Regions from separate parts of the Homo sapiens genome. Here regions 1 and 3 are each linked to region 2. Evidence: fine-mapped expression QTL. A gene starts in region 2. Each other region holds a variant in brackets. All regions are shown on one strand. Distances are between the middles of the regions.

What was found. PIP is the estimated chance that this variant, and not a neighbour inherited with it, causes the effect. A credible set is the group of variants that fine-mapping cannot tell apart.
Region 1: its variant is the best candidate, but not a certain one, in a credible set for the expression of LINC01237 in whole blood (TOPMed, PIP 0.90).
Region 3: its variant is the best candidate, but not a certain one, in a credible set for the expression of LINC01237 in monocytes after R848 (Quach 2016, PIP 0.83).

Annotation. Positions count from the first base shown.
Region 1 is chr2:241,905,251-241,910,470 of GRCh38, reverse strand. All of the region lies in intron 2 of LINC01237 (long intergenic non-protein coding RNA 1237), which reads right to left. Among named protein-coding and RNA genes, the nearest start is that of FAM240C, 7.4 kb to the right of the region's middle. The variant T/G (reference allele first, on the strand shown) is at 2,830.
Region 2 is chr2:241,878,330-241,883,549 of GRCh38, reverse strand. It overlaps LINC01237 (long intergenic non-protein coding RNA 1237), which reads right to left and starts at 2,187. Exons shown (of 4, transcript NR_110220.1): 1 at 2,072-2,187; 2 at 915-990. It overlaps LOC105373978 (a long non-coding RNA gene), which reads left to right and starts at 2,223. Exons shown (of 3, transcript XR_924077.3): 1 at 2,223-2,435; 2 at 2,533-2,681; 3 at 4,274-4,516. RefSeq lists an enhancer at 2,167-2,757.
Region 3 is chr2:241,982,298-241,987,517 of GRCh38, reverse strand. The region is part of intron 3 of LINC01237 (long intergenic non-protein coding RNA 1237); the gene reads right to left. Among named protein-coding and RNA genes, the nearest start is that of LINC01238, 14 kb to the right of the region's middle. RefSeq lists an enhancer at 1,976-2,512. The variant A/G (reference allele first, on the strand shown) is at 3,111.

The DNA.
Region 1 (5,220 bases), 27 kb before region 2:
GATTATTTAGAATGCTGTCAATACTCAGACTATTTACAAAGACATTTTTCAGGGCATCTGTCTCAGGATATTAATTGGATTTTCACAAAAATAGAGATGCATTCTGTTATCAAATACATTTGACAAATATAGAGTTAGAGAGAAATAGGTTCTCACCTGGTCCCAGAACCCATTTTTTCTGGGACCCCTGAGAGAACTGATACGACACTGTATGTGCTATTTTCTAGATCGACAATCATAATTAAAGCAATAAAGCCTGGCATTCCTGCAGGCAAGGCCCTGCTTCTGTGCTGAACACACAACCCCTGAGCTCCCTCGATCCCCGCTTCACAGAGGGAGAACCAGGGGCCAGGCCAACCCTAACCAGGCCACCAGGTTCCAGGACACAATTCCTTGCAAAAGTGCTTTGGGTCAAAATTGGCTCAAAATTGGCGGCCATATGCTGAGTTTCAGGCCACGTGTTCTGACAAGTCTCTGCTGGGCACTCAGCTCCGTCCACCCCCGTCCTCACAGTGACCCGGAGAGGGCAAGGGCAACGTCCTCTTATCAAAAGAAAGGTCCTGGTGTTAGGAAGGCAGGAGCCCAGGAGAGCCAGAATCACACCATTTTAAAATCCACTCGCCGGACACAGTCATGACCCCCGGTCCTAAGATGTTCACAGCTAAAGAGGCAGCTTGGTGACGCCTGCAAAAACACACTCCTCCAACAACAGAGTCCAGACGTCCAGAACCCCAGCAATGTGTGCTGTTAAGATCATTCCAGTTATGCTTTGATGGACTCACACACGAAAATGTCAAGGACAGTTTTCCTTACATAGAATAAGAAAATATCATGCTCTCTGCTCACCTACATGTAGGCACAGCTTGGCTTGGTCTTTCCACAGACGAGACCCCTATATAAGAAAAACCTAAAGCTGGGGCGTTGCTTCTCTTGCTTTCTGAGGGTGCCCTATCTGCAATGAAGTAGTTTTCAATAAACTTCCTTCTCTCACTGCACTCTGCAACTCGCCTGGAATTTCTTCCCACGAGAGATCCAAAGCCCTCTCTTGGGGTCTTGATTGAGACCCTTTTTCCAGTAACACTGAGGCTCCATTTCCAGTCATGGCAAAGCAGCTCATGTCAGTCCAACACACCACCTACATCCCCTGGACAGATACAGGCACCAACCACCAGAAGGTACCGGGCACAGCCGGAAGCAGAAAGAGACTGAACAGGCGTCCGTACTCGGAGGAAAGCCGTGGCGCCAGGCAGATTTCCTTTTGTAAGGCATTCCACTCGAGAGCAGCTGGCCCACGCAGGGGAGCAAAGCCTCGGGTAGGAAACCACCGTCCCTCCGGCATGAGGACCCAGAGAGCAACGGGGTGACTGTGGCAGCCAGGGAGGAAAGAGGAGTTCCTGGAAAGGACAGAGCCAGAGGGGACCCCAAAATCTGCATTTCACTCTGCCTAGATCTCCTGGAGACCTGGCCCACACGTGTGCAGGACTTTGTGCCGCCTGAAAAGAACCGATGAGCGGCACCAATGGTGCCACCGTAGGGGACAGAGCCTAGCGTCTGCCCGACTAAGCAAAACAGAAATCTGTCTGACAGCCTGGGGACCGGAAGTCTGAGGTCAGGCATCGGCAGGGTCAGTTCCTGCGGAGATGTGAAAGGGAATCTGCTCCCGGCCATGCCCCAGCAACCCTCTGTGTTGCTTTTGATGGGGTTCGGGACACGCTACCCCAAAGTATGGCACCTTGGCACTGTGAAAACAGCAGAAGCAGGAAGGTCTCTCTCACCTCCCCTCAGCCTTCTCCCCTACAGCAGGTCCCCAAGACCCTGATGTGAGACGCCCTCCCGAAACCCGGGGAAAAGACACGCCCTTCTCTCTGAAGATACAGGACACAGAGAACTGGTGTTGACAGCTGACGTGATGACAGTTCTCGTCTTCTCAGTTCAAAAGAATTTAAACAAGAGACACACTGCAAAAGAAGTGCAGCACAGAGTAACTTATTGCAAAAGAAGAAAAGTATTTTGCAGGGGCTCACGCCTGTAATCCTAGCATTTTAGGAGGCCGAGGTGGGCGGATTACTTGAGGTCAGGAGTTTGAGACCAGCCTGGCCAATATGGTGAAACCCCATCTCTAATAAAAATAGAAAAATTAGCCAAGCATGGTAGCAAGCGCCTGTAATCCCAGCTACTTGGGAGGCTGAGGCGGGAGAATCACTCAAATCCGGGAGGCAGAGGTTGCAGGGAGCCAAGATCATACCACTGCACTCCAGCCTGGGCAACAAGAGCAAAACTCTGTCTTTAAAAAAAAAAAAAAGAGTATTTTGAAAGTGAGGTGCAGAATAGACAGGCCACCCTAAGGGAGAAAGGACTCAGGGTGGGTCATGAGGGTGAGACAGCAGAGACCGGCCATAGGGAGGCTGCCTTTATGGGAGTCTCACCCGATGATCCATAAGAAGATGGGAGAGGTAGCCGGGCATGGGGGCTCATGCCTGTAATCTCAGCACTTTGGGAGGCCAAGGCGAGTGGATCATCTGAGGTCGGGAGTTCAAGACCAGCCTGACCAACATGGAGAAACCTCGTCTCTACTAAAAAAAAATACAAAATTAGCTGGGCATGGTGGCGCATGCCTATAATCCCAGCTACTCAGGAGGCTGAGGCAGGAGAATCGCTTGAACCTGGGAGGCAGAGGCTGTGGTGAGCTGAGATCTCACCACTGCACTCCAGACTGGGGATAGATCTAGACCCCACCTTAAAAAAAAAAGAAAGTGGGAGAGGTGTTATCAGGAAGCACAGTCTGGTGGTCGTCGGCACACATGCTTGTTTGTAGGTGGTGTGTCTCAT[T/G]AGCATCTTACATCTCCACCCAGGGGTATCTTTTTCACTGTTATAATGAACAAAGGGTTGGTTCGAGGACAGGTAAAAATTAAAGTGTGCGTGCTCTTTAGAAGAGAGTCCCCGCTGGAGATAGCTTTGCTTGCGTGAGCTCAATTACAAAGCAAACACTGAGGTTTAGGTGGTGGCTGTGTATAGTCAACACAGTCATTTCCCTGCTCACCTATCCCCTCTCCCCCGGGCACACAGGCCGTGCTGAGGTGCCCAGTTCACCCATCACATCACAGCCTCCCGTCCTCATCCACGTTTCCCCACGGCCATCCCCTCTTCATCAAGCCAAAGCACAAACACACAGGTCCACCTGGCTCTGGGTCTTCATTTCCTTACGAAGGCTCCAAGTCACATAAAACTAAAATACATTTGTTCGCTTTTCTCTGGTGAATCCGTCTTGTTTCAGGAGCCTCAACCCTGAACCTTTTCTCTCTGCACTTGGAGTGTAGACGCGTCCCTTCTTCTCTCCCTCCGGCTTCACCGTACCTTCCCTGTGTGTCTGTGCACACATTTCCCCTTCTTAAAAGCATGCTGGTCATTGGATTTAGGGCCCACCCTAATCCATCATGAGGTCATCCTAATGCATAACATCTGCAATAACCCATTTCCAAAAATGTCTGTGTTCACAGGTTAGGGCTTGAACATATTTCCTAAGGACACTATTCAGCCCTCCACAAACACCAGCAGCAGACTAAGCCACGTTCAGGTCGTGTTGAGGTGGGAAATTAAAGAAAAATAAAATTAAAAAGAAAGAGAAATAAGCTTTCCCGTATTAGGCTAACTTGTCCTAGAGGCAGCAACAAGCACAGCCCAAACCCAGGAAAAGTCTTAATAATAATATTATCTAATGTGCTCTGGAGACTCTCCCAGCACTCCCTCAATATAGGGAGAAGAAAAACAAATTTTCCTTTGTTTTATGGAATGAGTTTATAAATTCCTGTTCTCTGTAACTATTGACTTCAAGCATTGTTTTATCTAAGCAGTAAAGTGAAGGTCATGAGCCTCTGAGCAGGCCTGAGTTACGGCCACCTGGGCAACATAGTGAAGGTTATGGGATAAGCCCGTGCCCAGGTTAACCTAGATAACGGACATGTGGGTTGCTTGGCAACAGTCATGTGCAATCCTGAGTTTGTCCTGCCTCTGTATCCCTGCTTTCACGCCACTGTAAGCTTGCTTCAAGCTAGCCCACCCCCTTTTGTGAAGTGTGTGTAAAAGTCAGGCGCTGTCTTTGTTCTGGGCCCAGTCTTTGGACATTGAGTCTGCTGGGTCTGAGTGCACTCAATGATAAAGATATCCTCCTGTGTACACTCCAAGGTCTCTCTCCGGTCCTCCTGATCCTGCAACAGTGCTAGGTCTCCCTAAAGGCCATCGGGCCCCTGGGTGGACCTTGGAGTCTTGCTCATTATCTCAGCCATGCTGTGCACATGACTGTAGTCCCAGCCTGGCCCACCCTGGGATGACAGGAGCTTCCCCCGGCGGTCCGTTTCCTGCACTGGCCCCCCCACAGGGATGTCTCCCAGGGCTGCCTGGACACGTCTTCACATTGGCTGAGGGGTCCCTCAAGGGCAACCAGACATGGCTTCTAGTCTAGTACCTGTTCTTCCCTCACAACATGAGTGAAGGATTTTAAACCTTCAAAGCCATATTTGCACTTACCTAACCCCTTAATCCTTTTCCTTCCGTCCCCCGTCCTGGAAGCCCCACTCAGTGTGTCAGGGGATTTCACCACCGAGGCACCTGTGGGCTGGGACCTGGGAGCTCTGCGTCCCCCTCCCCACACTCAGTTTCACTATGGCCAGATGCTGCCTCCGATGAAAGAAAGGGAGCCCATGGCAGAGCGTCGAGGGCGCCAGGGTGGCCACACAGGCCAGGAGACCAACCTCTAACCCTGATCTGACACAGGTCTAAGGGGAAGGTCATGAAGAAGAAACACAGCTCCTGAGAGACGTTTGGGGAGAACGAACCAGGACTAAACTAGAACTTACTCCGTGCAACCAGGGCCTCTCGGGAAACACTCAGGAAACCCTGGGCTGGCAGAACTAGTGGCGTCTTTGGGGACGGATCCCCGCAGGTTGGGAGTCCACGGTGCAGGGCCTGCATGGGGGACCAGACACGGCCACACCAGACGGGGCCCCTCTCAACGTTCAGCTGCTCAAGAAGGAGAAAAAGAGAAGGATTCTAAATGACGCACTGCCCTTCACACTTCAGGGTGAGGTTCCCGGCCCACTTTGTATTATGATTAAACACGCAGGTGTGCGCACACCCACAGCCCTGCACACACACCTGTGCACACTCCCAGCACCCACTCCCCCTTTTCTCCTGGGCAGAGGACGGCCAGGCCTAAGTGTGGTG
Region 2 (5,220 bases):
AACCCGAGAGGTGGAGCTTGCAGCGAGCCAAGATCGCGCCACTGCACTCCAGCTTGGGCAATGGAGCAAGACTCTGTCTGAAAAAGAAAAAAAAAAGAAAAAAGAATAGAAAAAGGAAAAGATACACAGTGCCAATTCTGTGCATAAGAAAATAGCCCTGGAACACTCACATTAGACCAGGTAGCACCCCTGAAGATAAAGAGGGACATTCCATGATGACACCATGGTCAGCCACTGTCAGGATCACAGAAAAATCCTAAATGCCTAAAAAGATAATAACAGTTTCAAAAAACACGAAGTAAAAACGGACGGAACTGAAAGAATAGAGAAATTCACTGTCCTAGTTGGAGATGTAACAGCTCTCTCGGGACTGCAAGCACAGCGGGTGGGACAGGAAGGATTCGCCGGTTTAAAGAGCACTGTCAACCAGCTGCACCTCATTAACTCTTGGCGAGCATCCCACCCCACAGCTGCAGAACACAAGTAATTTTTGAGTGTATACGGAGCATTTACAAAGATAGGGCTTATGTTAAACAGTAAGAATAAGTCTCTGTAATTTTAAAAAGTGAGATCCTGCAGTTTGTTCCTTGATCAAAATGGAATTAAATCAGTAATAGCAAGATTCCTTTTAGACTCTCCACATATTTGGAAAGTGGGCAATACTCTTCTAAATATGCTTCTCAGAATAGAGGGTTTAAAAAATAAATACACACATAAAGAGATTCTTCTAAATAAAGCATGGGTCAAAGAAGAAATCCAAAGAAAATTAGCACTTATTTCAAATATCCATCAAAATATTACACAAAAATTGTAGCATAGTCTTAGAGGAAGATTTGTGACTTTAAATACTGACGACATTTCAACAAAGAAGGTACACAGTGATCAATACACTCATGAAAGGGTGTTCAACTCACCCGTCACAAGGAAATGCAAACTAACGCCTCACTGAGATCTGCCAAACTTCTGGTGCCGACTGTGACCTGGCCGCGCCTGCGGGGGGCAGAGGAGAGAAGGAGACTGGGGGTGAGGTCCACGTGTCCCAGGCAGGGGGACAGAGGCCAGAAGAAAGTGGCTGCGGGTGAGATCCACATGTCCCAGCCAGGGACGGAGAGGAGGGAGAACCGGACAGCAGCATCTGCTTCCAGCCACGTCACGTGTTTGGAGAGGCGGTGTCACCTCAGTGTGAGGAATGGCCACTCAGGACACGTCTGGACTTCCTCCCAGCCACCTCTCACCAGGGATCAGAATCCCGGCCCCGGGGACCCTCGACCCATAAACATCTTGGGCCTACAGCACCACCAAGCACGCCACAGCCTTGGCCTGGGGCTGCTTCAGAGACACCGCACGGAGGGCTTCTCACTTCCCCAGCCAGGAGCCACCCACGCTGCACCCGGGGAGGCCCCAGTTGCATCTGTCCCACCTTTCAGACCGAGCCAGCCAGAGGCGCCCAGAAAGACTATGCCAGGCCTCAGCTGTGTTGAAACCCAGGTTGGGGACAGTGGCAGGACCTGTGCCAGCGTCTGCCCTTGCTCCTGGCTGGATTCAGTTACTTGGCTGGGCCCCAGTGAAGGCGCAGAGGGCACCACCACCTGCACAGGAAGGGAAGGAAGCCCACAGCAGAGCCAGCACACGTGTGGCCACGCCCCGGCCCAGCCCCCCCTCACACGTGGCCACACCCCCTGCCCAGCCCCCTTACATGTGGCCACACCTCCGATCAGCCCCCTTCCACACGTGGTCACGCCCCCTGTTCAGCCTCCTCGCACATGACCACGCCCCCGTCCAGCCCCCGCACACAGGGCCACTCCTCTAGCCCAGCCCCTCACACGCGTGACCACGCCCCTTAGTCTCCTCGCTCGTGGCCACGCCCCCTGCACGGCCCCCTCGCGCGTGGCCACACCCCTGTCCAGCCACACACACACACACACACACACACACACACACACACACACACACACGCTGGGCCACGCCCCTACCCAGCCCCCTCACACGTATGGGCACGCCCCTGCTCAGCGCCCTCACACGCATGGCCACCCCCCGTCCAGCCCCTTAACGCGTGCTGCCCCGTGCCCACCTACAGCGGCCTCCTCCGCACCAGGGCTGACCCAGTGTGGGGTCCAGGTGGGCTCTGGTAGGCCCCCGGGCAGAGCTGTGCCCCGCGTCACTGAGGATGCACAGAGAAAAAGGAAGGGGCGGAGGAAGCGGAAACCCGAGCAGCGCTGCCTGGGCGTGGCAAGCCCGCTAGTTTTCCCGCCCGCTCATCTGCTTTCCCTCCCTCCATAATAAGTGTGGCACCTGGAGTGTGTGACTTTCATGATTTTCTTTTAGGAGAAACATAACGCAGTCCTCTGTCCCGCCCCTCCTGCAGGGAATGGTCATGGGGGCGTAGTTAACCCCATGCGTGCGGAGGTACACCTTGGAGCCCAGCGCCGACACAGGTCAGGAGAGTGTTAGCCACTGCTGAATGACTCCTGTTGTGTGCAAAATTGTTTTGACTTTTAAAGACTACACACAACCCATTCTGCCATTATTTAGGGTGAATTATACTGCTGGGTCACAAGAAGAAGACGTGGCTCCTCTTGATGCTGAGGGAGGCCTGGAAGTCATTGCTGGGAGCTTGGGAAGAGGGCTCCCCGAGGCAGAGCCTCCCAGGGGACAGAGGCGGCCCAGCGATGACCTGGGAGGTGAGCACAGGTGTGCGGGGCCCCTCGGGGCCCACCATAAGGCCCCACAGCAGGCCCTAACCTCCCCCATGTGTCCTAAGGCAGTTCCATTTGCATTGGCAATGGTCATTTCACTACTTCTGACCTGGAAGCGAGGTATATGTTTGGAGGTGACACGAGGCTCCCAAAGGGGTGCTATAGGGCGCCTTTTCTTATTTTATAAAACTTACATCGAAATGAGCCGCACCCTGAGGGGCAGCCCACCTGCTCACCCCTGGAGGGACTCTCCCAGGGCTGAGGGTCTTCCCCAGATGCTTCACCCGGGCTCCTCCAAGTGTGGGGTGGCCTTCAGTCTGCTGCGAAGAGGATGTGGGGTGTCTGGCAGCCACTCTGCTCTGGATTTGCGGGAACCTCTGCTGCCTCCCTGGTGCCCCTTGATTGGCGCTGGGTCTAGGAACCCCCTCTGGGTTGGAACTGGACTTGAAAAGGTCATTTTCTGCCTGCACCCACCAAGGCCACCTGGGGCTGTGGAGCCAGGAAACCCCTGTCACTCTCCTCAGATGCTGGCCCGAGGGCACCCTCAGTCTCCCTGAGTCCAAATCACCTTTTCTTCCCAAATGACCCAGCAGCCTAGGCCAGCCCCAGCTGGAAAGACTGCTCCCCTCTCTCCTCCGCTCTGCTCCCCTGCCCTCTCTTCCCCTCCCCTCCCTTCCTTTCTTCTGCTGGCGGAAGTCCTGTGCCAATCCCACATCCACATCCGTCACTGCACTCCTGGATCACACCTGGACAGACACAGAACTAGTCCTGGGAGTGATCCCAGGGCCAGGACCCTAGTAATGAGTTATCTAAATGTCTCTGGGTGTCTGGAATTGGTTCTCTGCTCCAACTAGCTTTAAAGGCATTCACGCTCTGTTCCCAGGGGTACCAGGGTGCTAGCTGCCCACAGGAGTAGCATACAGGCACTCAGATTGCCACCTGCAGACATCTGTAATCAAATGGCCATAGGATGCCTGGCCCTGGGCATCAAGGGAAAAATTTAGGGGTGTAGCTGGGTGGGCGGATGCTTCTAAGTGTGCTGGAGAACTTGGGGAAAAAGAGAAAGGCCTCCAATTTAGCCCCCAAAGTCCCAGGCAAACAGGGACACTTGCCATAACAGGTGGAGACATTCCCCAAAGGCTGGGAGGCAGAGTGGAGGCATCGCCAGGACCCCAGCCCTCTGCTGCCTCTCCTGTACAGAGGTACAAAGTCCCAGGCCCCAGAAGGAAAGGGAAGGAGATCCCCGAACCTCTGCTCCAGCTAGGACCTCACTGAGGCCCAGGTGGTGTGACCCTCCACCTACCAGCCAGCCCGGGGCCCGGATCACAGCGTGGCCACTCCTCCTGGGGACTTCCCTGGCCTCCCGCTCCCCTCGCCAAAGCTGCGGGTGAAGCAGCTCTAGCCCACCCTAGCTAGCCATTGTCCAAGGCCAAGGCCCGCCTGTCCACCTGAATACCCAGGGTCCAGGGTAACCAACCTGATCCTAACCCAACCCTGCAACAGGTAGCTACATAAATCAGCACAGACCCTACCCCACCCCCAGACACTTAGAGAGGCATTCGCTTTATCCACCACAGGGTGATGGGAGCTGCTGTCAGAGTTCTCGCCAGACCCTCCCAGGGAACCCCAGACTTGGTTTCAGCAGGAACCACATGTGACCCTGGATGAGCTGACCCCCATCACTAGGAAATGTACCTTAAGTCAGAAAAGTATTCACACTTTGAGTCCCCTCAACTTTGGCTGAACTAATAGCAATTACATTAAAAATGTGTCTGCCCTTCATCTTCTTTGACTTTGATATTAAATATCTCTACTAATAACTCAGTTGCCTAAAGTCGTTACTGCTACCTCATATTTAATTAGGCCCAACCTGGCCACTCCAACCATATAGGAGACTCAGGCAAGAGCTCAGATGTAGGCTCAGGTTAAAGTTCCAGTGTGGATTCAGGTGTGGGCCCAGGTGCAGCCTCAGGTGTAGTCTCGGGTGAGGGCTTAGGTGCAGCCTCAGGTGTAAGCTCAGGTTAAAGTTCCAGTGTGGGCCCAGGTGCAACCTCAGATGAGAGCTCAGGTGTGGGCTCAGGTGCAGCCTCAGACGAGAGCTCAGGTGTGGGATCAGGTGCAGCCTCAGACGAGAGCTCAGGTGTGGGCTCAGGTGCAGCCTCAGACGAGAGCTCAGGGGAGGGCTCAGGTGCAACCTCAGATGAGGGCTCAGGTGTGGGCTCAGGTGCAGCCTCAGATGAGAGCTCAGGTGTGGGCTCAGGTGCAGCCTCAGATGAGGGCTCAGGTGTGGGCTCAGGGTGAGAGTTCAGCTTGCTGCTTGGCATGTGAACCCCAGGCCTACCCTTGGCTTTTGAGCTAGTGTCTGTGCCTGGGCTTTCCCGCGACCATGGCGGTGCATTCAGCACTCACAGTACCGCATTTGCCTTCACAGCGGTGAGTGCACGCATTGCCTTAGCTCCCATTTTTACTAGTGAATGTAACAATTAATTAAATAAATACAATTACTAATGAAACCAATGGTAAC
Region 3 (5,220 bases), 100 kb before region 2:
ACACCCAACGCCACCGACTGGATCTCCAAGTACACCCAACGCCATCGACTGGATCTCCGAGTACAATGAATGCCATCAACTGGATCTCTGAGTACACCCAACACCACCGACTGGATCTCCGAGTACACCCAACGCCACCGACTGGATCTCCGAGTACACCCAACGCCATCGACCGGATCTCCGAGTACACCCAACACAGCAACTGGATCTCCGAGTACACCCAACGCAGTGACTGGATCTCCGAGTACTCTGAAAGGACTTGATTGGCACTCTGCCTGTGCACATGTCATGATACGTGAAGAATATCTTGAGAACGCGGCTTTTAAAACCGCACCTGACCATGTGGAGATGCTGGTGTTGGGTGGAGGAGGAGCCCTGAGCCAGGGAGCGGCTCCTCAGTAGGCACGTGGGGAACACGCCCTCCCAAGCACCAGAACCACACAAGGCTGCACCGAGACCGGGGTGCGAGACCCTGTGCCAGGCGAGTGCCTGGTTTCCACAAACGCAGAGCAGAGCGTCCCCACGCCTCGGCAGTCTCCTTGCTGAGGGTGCTTCTTCCCTACTGGAGGAGGGAATCCCGCTTCCCCGATGGGACCGCCTTCGCCCAGGGAGCTCCTGGGAGGAGTCCGTCCCGAGTTATCCTGACCCTCTCCTCCTGCCATTGATGTGTGTGGTGATCGGAGCATGAGGCAATGCTGTAGCAGGGCAGGCTGCCTTCCGGGGTAAAGGAAGGTAACCTGGTCTCCCGGGCAGCTGGGCAGCTCGCGTTCCCTTTCCCACATCTTTTAAAGTGAATCAAAGAGAAACAAAGTAATCTTTCAGTCATTTTCTTCCAGACCGCAAGAACAAGAAATAATGTTTGAAAAATGGAAGGGAGCATGTGATCTCTATTCTCACTAAGCAGAACTTCATGGAAATACTGTTCATCGCATAACGATGGATCTTCACTTGCTTATCATTGGATTTTGCCTTGTGTCTCCACTTATTAACTACACAGGCTCAGCAAGTTTTCAGTCTTTATAAAATTGTGCTAACCGTGGGTTGCTGTCATCTTTGGTAACTTTGGAGAAAGGTCTTACTGCGTGTTCTCACCTTTCTGAAGAGCCCTCATGGGGTCCAGCCCATGAGGCGTCCCAACAGGAAAGGGGGTTTGCAGTGAGCCCTGGTTCCACCACAGCTGTTAGAGAGAGTTTGTGCCCCATGCCCAGCTCCCAAAATCCACTTCATCCCCGGAACAGTGCAAGGATAGGAGGTGTGGGGGTGGGTGGGGTCAGAGTCCACCCCCCCGCTCCTGTCCACCCGGATCCCGGTCAGTCATTCTGGGTTCTTTATGGCCTTCAGGGCCATTCCCACTGCTTGACAGCTGCCTTGGGTCTCAGATAAATGTGTCTTTCTTTCCTTTGCCTAACAGCTGCGGCTTTATCTAGCCAGCATATTTATGGAGCATCAATCATGAATGTAAAAGGTGGACAGCTTTGACTGTACATATGGTTGTAGAATATTGGAGAAGAGAGAAAGTCAGCCAATAGGAATTATTGACAGGACTGCACACATAATTTGCAGCTTTCACAAAATATCAATTAAGCCACATGATGGTTTCATCCCTGGGCAGAGACGAAAGCCCGGCAGGTGAGCAGGAGCGAGACAGAGCACCACGGGCCACGTGAGGCCAGGGCACCGCCTGTGAGCAGGAGAGAGACAGAGAACCACGGGGCACGTGAGGCCGGGGCACTGCCCATGAGCAGCAGAGAGACAGAGAACCACGGGGCACGTGAGGCCAGGGCATCGCCCGTGAGCAGGAGAGAGACAGAGAACCACGGGGCACGTGAGGCCGGGGCACTGCCCATGAGCAGGAGCGAGACAGAGCACCACGGGGCACGTGAGGCCAGGGCACCGCCTGTGAGCAGGAGAGAGACAGAGAACCACGGGGCACGTGAGGCCGGGGCACTGCCCATGAGCAGGAGAGAGACAGAGAACCACGGGGCACGTGAGGCCGGGGCACTTCCTGTGAGCAGGAGAGAGACAGAGAACCACGGGGCACGTGAGGCCGGGGCACTGCCCATGAGCAGGAGCGAGACAGAGAACCACGGGGCACGTGAGGCCGGGGCACTTCCTGTGAGCAGGAGAGAGACAGAGAACCACGGGGCACGTGAGGCCGGGGCACCGCCCGTGAGCAGGAGTGAGACAGAGAACCACGAGGCACGTGAGGCCAGGGCATCGCCCGTGAGCAGGAGTGAGACAGAGAACCACGAAGCATATGAGGCCGGGGCACCACCCGTGAAGTCACAGTCACACGTCAGCTGGTGGCACCCAAAGTGTGCAGAGGATGCCACACCCTCAGAGCCTCTTTCTGAGTCGTCCCCTCTGGGAAATCTTTAAAACAAACTGAGCCTGGCACAGCAGGAGAGCTACAATACGTTAAATTTTGGATACAGATCCAGCTACTACAAAAAAAGGAATTTTTTTCTTCAACTTCCTTAGGCAGCATCTAAAGAATCAAAATCAGATTCACCTGTTAGGCTGACAAAAAAAAAAATTGTAAGTGAAAATAGCCAGACACAAAACGTGCATGTGTGTGCACGTGTGCACGTGTGTGTGTGTGTGTCTATACACATACACACGTGTAGACTTCTGATGGAAACTAAGGCTGTGCAGGCAGAAGTGACTGGATAAAGTTTTATTGGAAGCTGAACATGGGGATCCACTTGGGAAGACGCCCACAGAACTGAGCATGTTCTGGGGTCGGCTACTAGGTGGAAGACTTTCTGGAAAAGTTTAGGAGAAGGGAGGGGACTCCTCACAACAGAGGCATCCTTCTCATGGGGGGACAGGTTGGAGGGCACAGCCAGTGCACACAGATCATACCGTGAGGGCTAAAACGTCTCCATGCAAGGCAATCAGAAAGCTTCATGATTCCGAAACAAACCAGCAAAGCTTCGTGATTCAGAAGCAAGTCAGCAGAATGTCATGACACAGAATCAGATCAACATTTCACGGTTCAGAAACAAATCGGCATCCTTTCAGTGTCAGTGGGTGCCGATCAGTGCGTCAACAGCCGGAGAAGCTGATGGTGAGATTCTCCACTCAGGGGCAGGGTGTGCCCACGAGTC[A/G]CAGACGTCTCCAAAGCCAGTTAATTTGGAAGCAGGTTTATGTTTAAACTGCCAAATGTGACCTAAAGGTTACCAAGACCCCCTCTCTCCTCTCTGTCTCTCTCTCTCTCACACACACACACACACACACGCCATCTTACATACTCTATGATTCCACTTATAAGATTTTGTCACCCCAGGCTTGGGCCTGAGTCCCTCGACCCTTTCTGCGATCTCCCCGATGCCTCGCACTTGGCCATCGGGATTCACTGACTTTACCTAAAGAGAAGCCGCCCCTGAGCAGCCCCCTGACCCGGCATTTTCCAGCTGGCTCGGTGCATCTCAGCGTGAGACCCACACGTGGGGCGCCTGTGAGGACTGCAGAGGGGGACACAGGTCCCATCCACCCCAAGGCTGCCCCAAAGCATCTCATGTCATTGTTATGTTTTATGTATGGGGCACTCTGGTAGAAATTCTGTACTGGAAAACTATCTCCCCACTAAAACCAAACAAACAGGCAGCTTTCGGGGGCCTTCGTAACGCCTCCTACCTCACCTCCTAATGCCTCTCCTCACCAGGTTTCTGGTCTCCCGGAGCAACCTGCAAACCATCAGTCCTCAGCCTCCTCCTCACTGATGCCCCAGGCCCACAGGCTCTGGGGTTAGGACAGTGCCTGCTGCCTAGCGCTGGTCTGGGAGATGCCCTGGCCAGGGGGCAGGAGCCGCACGGGAGGGCTGAGGGCCGGGAAGTGCCGTGGGGCGGGGAGCATGGATGTCAGCAGGATGATTTTTGACACTTTATTTACACAGATGTCTCGATTGTACCATTAGATGAGTTTGTCAAGTTCCCCTGTAAACAACACCCCAAATAAGATATGAAATATTTCCAGCTCCTACAGTTTCCCCAAGCCCACCCACGCCAGGGCCCTCCCGGCTCCTCCCACAGCCACAGCGCTGAGTACCTGTGCAAGAAAGTCCTGCTTCTCCCGGATCAGATGGCACGGGATAGCCTGGCACACAGGCAGCCTGCGGGGCTGGCACGGACGCTTCTGTCCGGTGTTTTTGCTCGAAGTATCTTTTGAGATTCATCCACTAGATTGTGGACGCCAGAAGTTCATGCATTTTCATTGCCCAGTGGCCTTCCATGTGTGGTTAGACACACTTTCTTTAACTGTTTCCTGTTGAGGAATGCTGGACAATTCCAGGTGTGGCCTGTTACTGTGAGTGACCCCGCCCAGGACTGTGGACAATTCCAGGTGTGGGCTGTTACTGTGAGCGACCCCGCCCAGGACTGTGGACAATTCCAGGTGTGGGCTGTTACTATGAGTGACCCCGCCCAGGACTGTGGACAATTCCAGGTGTGGGCTGTTACAGTTAAAGCCCCTTTGAGAGACCCTGTCCAGGACTATTTGTGGAAGACATTTACATTTTGCTGGGCACAGGGCAGGTGTACATATAGTTGTGGGGGACCTGCCATGCTATGGTCAAAGTGCCTGTGCCTGTGCACCTCCTCCCCGCCGGCGACGTGAATATTCCAGATGTTCCAGACCCTCCCGGCACAGGGTGGGGCCAGGATCTTCACATCCAGTTATTTCAACGTGCGTCACACAGCATCCCATTATGATGAATGTGCATTTCCTGATGGCCGAGGATACTGAGTGCTTTCAATTTGCTTATTGGTCATTCTTGTATCACCTTTTGTCTAATGTCTGTCTTGTCTGTTTTTTTAAAAAGGTATATTTATTGATTTGTAAAGGAAGGACCTTTATATTTTGATATATGTCTTTCAGATTTTATATGTATGCAAATATTTTATTACAATTTGTTTCTTTTTGTTTTTTAATGGTGTTTTTATTTAAAGCAGCAGAATTGGTAGCTAACAGAATAGTCCCTATGAGTAACATGAAGGGCAAACGTCACATCACCATGTTAACAGACTCGGGAAGTGTATCTGAAGAAGTCCAACCTCCATTCATGAATAACAATTTTCAGCAGACTTCTCTGGGGGCCTTCCTCCACCTGTGGGAGTCGTACATCCAGAAGCCGAGTGAGCTGGAAGGACCCCAGTGGGGATGGGCTATGGTTGGAGACCCTGGTATGAACCCCAGTTTAGCTTGACATAGACACAGATG